2 linked regions of the Homo sapiens genome follow. The protein of the gene in region 1 purifies or fractionates together with the protein of each later gene. This does not show direct contact. Each region holds a gene or a part of one and is shown in the gene's direction. Other genes may lie near its edges. The genes, in order: SRBD1 and TAOK1.

What was found.
Region 2: the proteins of SRBD1 (region 1) and TAOK1 fractionate together in Homo sapiens (co-fractionation; one large-scale study listed by BioGRID). This does not show direct contact.

The regions. Positions count from the first base shown.
Region 1 is NC_000002.12:45,597,581-45,601,405, reverse strand, and holds part of SRBD1 (S1 RNA-binding domain-containing protein 1), read left to right. Parts: intron 1-1,570; coding exon 1,571-1,957; intron 1,958-3,825.
Region 2 is NC_000017.11:29,543,850-29,547,674, forward strand, and holds part of TAOK1 (serine/threonine-protein kinase TAO1), read left to right. Parts: 3' UTR 1-3,825. UniProt on the Homo sapiens protein: Serine/threonine-protein kinase involved in various processes such as p38/MAPK14 stress-activated MAPK cascade, DNA damage response and regulation of cytoskeleton stability. Phosphorylates MAP2K3, MAP2K6 and MARK2.

The DNA.
Region 1 (3,825 bases):
AAGAGAGATAAATACAACCAGAGTGCTGGTTTAATATTTAATAGTTTAAAATAATAATCTTAAGGACTTGAAATTCTTATGGCCAGCATTTCGTTCTCCTTGGAGCCTAATCTGAATAGGGAATTAAGTAGTAATCAGAAATTTACTTGATGAGCATGGACTCAGAATAGGATGATGAGATAAATCCATTCGTTTGAGTTTATTGAATGTCCACTGTGGTCTAGGCATTATGCTTGTCACAATCACAATTGAATGTTTTAATAGCTTGAAGCTAAGACAGTGGCTGACAACACCCTTTATGATTGACACTTTCTTTAGATATGTCAATTCATTTGATTAGGTTATCAACTCTTTTAGGCCTGGGAGTTATTTTATCTTTATGTCTCTGCTCTGATCCATTCTATTTTGGGCAAAAAATTTAATACTCAGAGGGCTCTCTAATGTTCATTATTTTCAAGTTCAGATGGTGGTGGTGGCAGGTTGGCATTCAGGTGGAGGTGCTCTTTATTGTAGTTCTTAATATTTTTAATAGTGATTCTGGAAAAAATACTTGATAAAAGAGAAGATAGAATTTTGACTAAAATTTAGTTTGGGAATTGTTCATGTTTGTGCCATCTGCATCATTTAGGTAACGGAGAACAGACCAGCTTAGGGGTAGGGTCTTTATCTTATTTACACTATACCCAGTGCCGAGATGGGTGCCAAGTCTCATTTCTTCACACTTGAGCTGTCACTTGGATTGGGGGGCAGTGGCAGTGCAGAGTGTAGTCCCTAGACACCTGTGTGGGCTGCTGTGCGGACTCTTGTTAAAGAAAAATGCCTGACATTAGCCTGCTATCATTCTGTGTTCTATCCTCTACTCTTCAGCAGAAATTGGTGGCATGTGTAGCCTGTTGAGTTGTATGAGTGAATGAGTGTTACTTTTCTGTCTGCTAAGTGGTTGACTTTGATAGCAAGTTTTAATCTTGGTTTTCTGGCATGTGTAGACCTATCCTTTACTCATTTTTAAAAATTAAACTGCTTATTTCTAAATAGTTGACATGCAATGGGAAGAAATAATAGAAGAATTCCATGTACTCTTTATCCATTTTTTCCCGAATGGTAGCATCTTGCAAATCTATAGTAAGATGTCACAACCGAGATACATTGATAAAATCCACTGATCTTATTTAGATTTCTCCAGTTTTACTTGTATTCATTCATGTGTATGTATATGTATGTACTTGGTTCTGTGCAATTTTATCGCACATGTAGGTTTGTGTATCTACCATGACAGAAAAGTTCCATCACCACAAAGATGCCTAGTGTTGCCCTTTTATAGCCACACCCACCTCCCCCCATCATCTCTGACCCTTGCCAACCTCTAATCTCTTCAGGAATGTTATATAAATGTATTCATATAGTATGTAACTTTGAGATTGGCTTTTTTTCCCACTCAACATAATTTACTTGAGATTCTTCCAAGTTATTGTGTGTATCAATAATTTGTTCACTTTTATTTGTGAGTAATAGTCCCAGGAAATTGCTTTTTATCTTCTAATTCTCATATGTTCTCTTTGTGGTTTGATAGAATAGCTCTGTGGCTATTGCTGATACTGCTTTAGAAGACAGAAAAAATAAATTGGATACTGTACAGACTCTGAAAACAGCCAAGACAAAACAGAAATGTGCAGCGCAGCCACATACAGTTCGAAGGACTAAAAAGCTGAAAGTTGAAGAAGAAACCAGCAAAGCCAGCAACTTAGAGGGTGAGAGTAATAGTTCAGAGACACCATCCACAAGCACTGTGTGGGGAGGTACATGCAAGAAGGAAGAGAATGACGATGACTTTACATTTGGTCAGTCCGCTTTAAAGAAAATCAAGACTGAGACATATCCTCAGGGGCAGCCTGTCAAGTTTCCAGCAAATGCCAATAGTACTAAAGAGGAGGTGGAAATGAATTGGGACATGGTACAGGTATGTGCAGCCTTTTTCTGTCACTTTAGTTGTTTTGAGTGCTTTCTTTTTGACTAGCATAGGGGTTGTACTGTCTAAGGGAAGGGCTGGGGGTTTTCAATTCTCTCTTCAGTTTTGCCAGTGATTTCTGGAGGCTTTCCTACTTGTAACTTTCTTGGGTACACTGTTTTGTGTTGTAGCTAATCATCAGTTCTTCAGCTAAGATGTGTGGCCTCTCTTGGCCTTTGCTATGGTGTTTTAGTGAACATAAACTATATAGACAGATTGTACCAACTGGTTGGGCCCCCACAGGTTCATTGTTAAGTTTTTGCTTTGAACTTGGACTGTATTTTCCTATAAAAGCAGTGTAGGTGATTAGGTCACTGGCTGTTCATACATCTATTTAACCCTTAGTATAATGTTGTAATGTACTACAACAAGGCCTAGCGATTTTTGAAAGGAAATTCTGTAAGAATTCCAACTTGAGATGCCAGAATTATATGTCTTACTACAGGGGAAATCAGATTTCTCCCAGTTTTTTTGGCTGGCTTTGGGGACAGTATTGGAGACCCGAAGAGTAGCTAGTGAGCTTTTGTCTGTCCCAGCACATTCTGGGACCATTTTAGACTTAATTATGGTAGTGCCTCTCAGGGTAGGTGGGGGTGACTTCCCTCCCTGTTATCTGTCCCATGTGATTCTATTGTGTACTCTTTCCCTTGCTATGATTGTGGCTGTAGAGCTGAGGGCCTCTGCTGGATCCTGATTCCACTTCTCAATCTGGGACTGCCTGTGTGTCACAAATGTCTTTGTACCCATGCTGCCTTTTCTATTACCTCTTAGTAAAACGTAATTTTTTTTTTTTTTTGAGACGGTGTCTTGCTCTGTCGCCCAGGCTAGAATGCAGTGGTGCTCACTGTCAGCTCCACCTCCCGGGTTCATGCCATTCTCCTGCCTCAGCCTCCCGAGTAGCTGGGACTACAGGCACCTGCCACCACGCCCGGCTAATTTTTCGTATTTTTAGTAGAGACAGGGTTTCACCGTGTTAGCCAGGATGGTCTCGATCTGCCTGCCTCGTGATCTGCCCGCCTCGGCCTCCCAAAGTGCTGGGATTACAGGCATGAGCCACCACGCCTGGCCTGTCACTGGTAATTTTTAATCATGATTTTTCTTCTCTGTGGTGCACTAAGGAATAGAATGTTGCTTTACAGCTTTTCCTCTTACCTTGTTCCTGAATGAATAGTCCAAGGTATCTTGGAAAAACAGAGTATAATTAGGCTCCTTTCTATGCCTTCTTTTTCTTTGTTCATTTATACCTAGAAGGCAGTGTTTTAAAGTGTGGTCCATGGACTACCTGCATCAGATTCACCCTGAAGCCTTTCTTAAAGTTCTTGGTTCCAGACCAGGCCTACAGAGGCAGGTGGACATGTACCACTTCCCTTCTCTTTTCCTTTTCTAACGCTTTTTAAGGTTATTTCCATTGTTGACATAGATCCACCTCTGGTAGTTGGCAGTGTGCAGGAGGAAGTTAAGAAGTTTTAGACTGTGAAGTCTCTGGTCTTTGAGACTTGGTAATAAGTTATTCGTAGTAAAGAGCTACTTATTCTATGACTCTGCTTCCCACCCTCTGTTACAGGGAAAGAGATGTAGAAAATGGCCCTGCCTTAACCTTTTGTCTCTAGGTTACAAGTATATAAGCTCTTTATAATGAGCTTAAGTAGAAAAGAGTTTTTCACCAAGGACATAGGGACCTTTCAAAGAACAAAAGGGACAGAATGTGGTCAAGTCTCCCAAAGGACTTGAACCAGAAATTGGAAACTGTGAGGACTCAGAGAAGGTGCTGTTAGTTTTCTCTCTATCTGGTGTCTTATAATCACCAATTTCTGCTGCTT
Region 2 (3,825 bases), on another chromosome or scaffold:
TGAGCCTTCAATGGGGAAGACCAGAAGGGTGAGAGGGGCCCTGAAAGTTCATATGGTGGGTATGTCCCGCAGCAGAGTGAGGAGATGAAGCTTACGTGTCCTGACGTTTTGTTGCTTATACTGTGATATCTCATCCTAGCTAAGCTCTATAATGCCCAAGACCCCAAACAGTACTTTTACTTTGTTTGTACAAAAACAAAGACATATAGCCAATACAAATCAAATGCCGGAGGTGTTTGATGCCATATTTGCAAATTGCCATCTATTGAAATTCTCGTCACACTACATAGACATAATTGTTATCTCCTTTTGGCTTATGTGATTTTCTGTTTACAAGTAGAATAGCCAATTATTTAAATGTTTAGTTGCCACAGTGAACCAGGAGTCACTGAGCCAATGACTTTACCAGCTGCTGACTAATCTTCATCACCACTGTAGATTTTGCTGCATGTGCAGGTCCTCTATTTTTAATTGCTGTTTTCGTTGCTGCAGTACTTTACAAACTTCTAGTTCGTTGAGACTTAGTGACCATTTGGCATCAAGTTAACATCACACAATAGGAAACACCACTTCCACAAGTCTCAAGCCTCAGTGCTAAAGTACTACTGAAAAGGAACTAGGAAGTTTGGCCAATTAAAAAAAAAAAGTAAAATAAGTTATAGTGGTCAGGGAATCTCTTGACGAAAGCTAACTCTTATTTTTCAGGGGGCACATGTTTTGTTTTGTTATGTTTTGTTGTACAATGAAGGATGAACCCAATGCTAAAAAGTCAGTTATTTTCTTGGTTTTCCATTTCTTGTATATAAATTGTGTTGGAGGTGGGTAGGAAGCTGTGAGTATGACTTGAAGAAAAATATCCTTTTCAGTGACAAATCAGAGTTTCTTACAAGTTATTGTCCTGCTCCCTTCCAAGTTGTCTTGAAGAATCCTTGCTGCTAACTCTGGATCCTGCTTTTCCTATAGTCAGAGGGCTCCAAGGTAGAACTCTCTAAGTCCCTCTCAATGGCACTCTTTGCCTAGACCAAACTAATGACCAAACAGTAATCAATCTATCACTGTTGAAGTCCTGGTTTTCTCAACCAAATTTTAAGTCTTTCCCAGGTATGTCAGTCGAGTTGCCATGAATCCTCACCTGTAGGAGTTTCTGGGATTCATTTTAAGGAAACTGGAAGAAAATTAATGTTTTAATGTAAATGTTTTTAAAACCAAGATCACCATAGAGTTCACACAAAATTTTAGGCAGTGTTTCAAGAAGCACTCTTATGTGTTGTTCTTTCAGCCCATGCTCCAGGTCACCGGTTTTTAGGTAAACATGACATGACATGTACTTGTAATATCAGTGAAAGGGGCTTTTAGTCGTCTCAGTATCTTTTTTGCATTCAGGTATTATAGCGTTTCCAACAAATTGAGAAATTACTTATTTGGTGTAAAATGACGAGAGAGCTTTAGAATTTAATAAAATGTCAAAAATACAATTTGATACCCTTAAAAATTATTCATAGATCTGGCTGCTCTGTACTACTGGATGGGTGGAATAGGGAAGCAGATCACTTTTGCATACAAAAACTCTTTCAAACCCAAAATATTATTGGTGGTACATTTTAAAGTCCAATTGTGGACTTAAATTAGTCAAATTGAGAGTTACTGAGTCCATTCAGATCTCCAGTAGGGTTTTGTATCTAATGTATTTGGCCACCAGTTTTACATGTAGGTCATGACTATACCTGGATTTTATCATTAAGTTAACTTTAAAGTATATACAGTTTGCAAAAAATGATTCAAATTAATTGGTTTGTATATGTTTGTGAGATCTAGCTTCTGAGGAATCTCATACATAGTAGGAACCATCATAGAGTAAAGCTTGTAGCAGAAAAATTGGAAGGGTTTTGAGATATCCTAGAGAAAGAGCAAGCACTTTCTGAATCAGTGGGGAAATATCAATATTTGATCAAATTAACACTACCTCCTTCCCAGTGTTGGTGTTCACTCACTATATGTCTTTAAGAAAATTAAAACTATGGAAAATTTGTCTAGCATATCAGAAGTTGTAAATGCTATATCTGGTATCCAGAGGCTGGCTGTAAAAAGTTCCTTGGGGTCACTCTATCTCACATTTTTTTTGGTTAGCATTTTAAAAATGCAAAGCCACATACTTTGAAATATATTATTCCAAATTGAGCTCCCTTCCCTTTGCACATATTTTTTCCTCCCCTTATTGAAGTCAGCTCTAACCCCAAATTCTAGTATCCAAAAGTATTTTTATTTGTATAATGCTATCTGAAAAATGTGTTTATATTATATTTTCAGAGCTGCAATTCTTATTCGCCATTTCAATACCTAGAGATAGAGAGTCTTGTATTTGAAGCCACACACACTGGTGTAATATGCTTAGTACTCTAGGTCAAGGATTTGTTGGTAAATGGAACATTTTAGCATAGTCATGATTTTTGGTTGCCTAGACATCAGGTAAACATTCAGTACACTAAAGAAACTATCCTGGACACTCCCTCCTGCTTCCACCAATTTTTTTCTCACCCCCTTTTCAAAAATTGAAAACTCTATGAGTGTCTTTTTGAGACCATAAAGCAGACTTTAGTAACTTTCTATTTCTGTAAGTACTAAATGTCTGGCATTTTAAACTTTTGTAGAATACATTATGTTGGACACTGGAATAATACTATTTATTTTCACCTGTGAAAAATGACTTCATTGTACTTGAAACACCTCCTTTGCATTTCTCCATTTGTGCCATTCACTAGTGGAAATAAATTGTATTATACCATGATCTACTGGCTTTTTAAAACTGTATTAAATATGCACATTTTTGGTATAGCTATTATCATTTGTATGTATATATTGTATATACATATGAGTGTCTGTATGTGTGTATAGATGGATGGATGTAACTCATACTGTACATTTCCATCAGGGCACTTAAAAGTTCTGTTATTTTTGTTTGGTTTTGTTATTTCAGTCCTCAGTTAAGGCAAGAATGCATGTGTTTCTTAAGAATGAGTACTCTGCGTTGATGTTTATGAGAAGGTGGTCATTAGATGCAGTCTTTTCCTTTTTAATCCCCTCTTAGCACTTCTGTGAGTGGAGAGGACATTAAGTAAAATTTGGAATCATAAGTTGCAATGCAGTAAAATGGTGCTGGGGAAGGAGCCAGTTAGTGTTTCTGTGAGTTTGTGTTGTGATGCAATAAGAGATAAGTAATGCAGAGAGAAATGAACCATGGAAAGTAAGAACACTGATGGTGATTCCTCTGCAAAGATGATAAGAAAAAGAACCAATAAATCACACAATCTTTATGTGCTTTCTATATGTATTTCTTAGTAGTGATACCATTGATCCTCTTACTTTTTTTACTCCATTAATACTAATAATTATATACTTTGCTGAGGATCAAAACAGCCAAGAAAGGAATTACTGCTAAAGCATCTAAGATTCTCCTGAACTGTAAAATCAACAGGAAATGGCCACTGGGAGAGAAGGATTTGGTATTGGGTGAGGGGCTTTCTCCCTTTACCTGCCTCTTCTTGCTTGCTAATAGTAAGTTCTTTGTGCACCTTCCACCACTTCTGAGCCACTACTATTCAAGTAGAGATTTGCCCCAACACATTAACTTTTTCCTTGGAGATTTATATGGTCCTGCATTTTGTCCTGTGCTCACAATGTGAAGTGTCTTCTGTATTCAAATCAAAAAATAATATATTTAAGGTATATAAGTGTGAATCTCCTATAATGATGGAAGAAGAGGTTCTCTTGTCTTAGATAGAAAAGAGCCTTCTCCAAGAGCAATGTCAAAACTTGGGCTGTCATCTT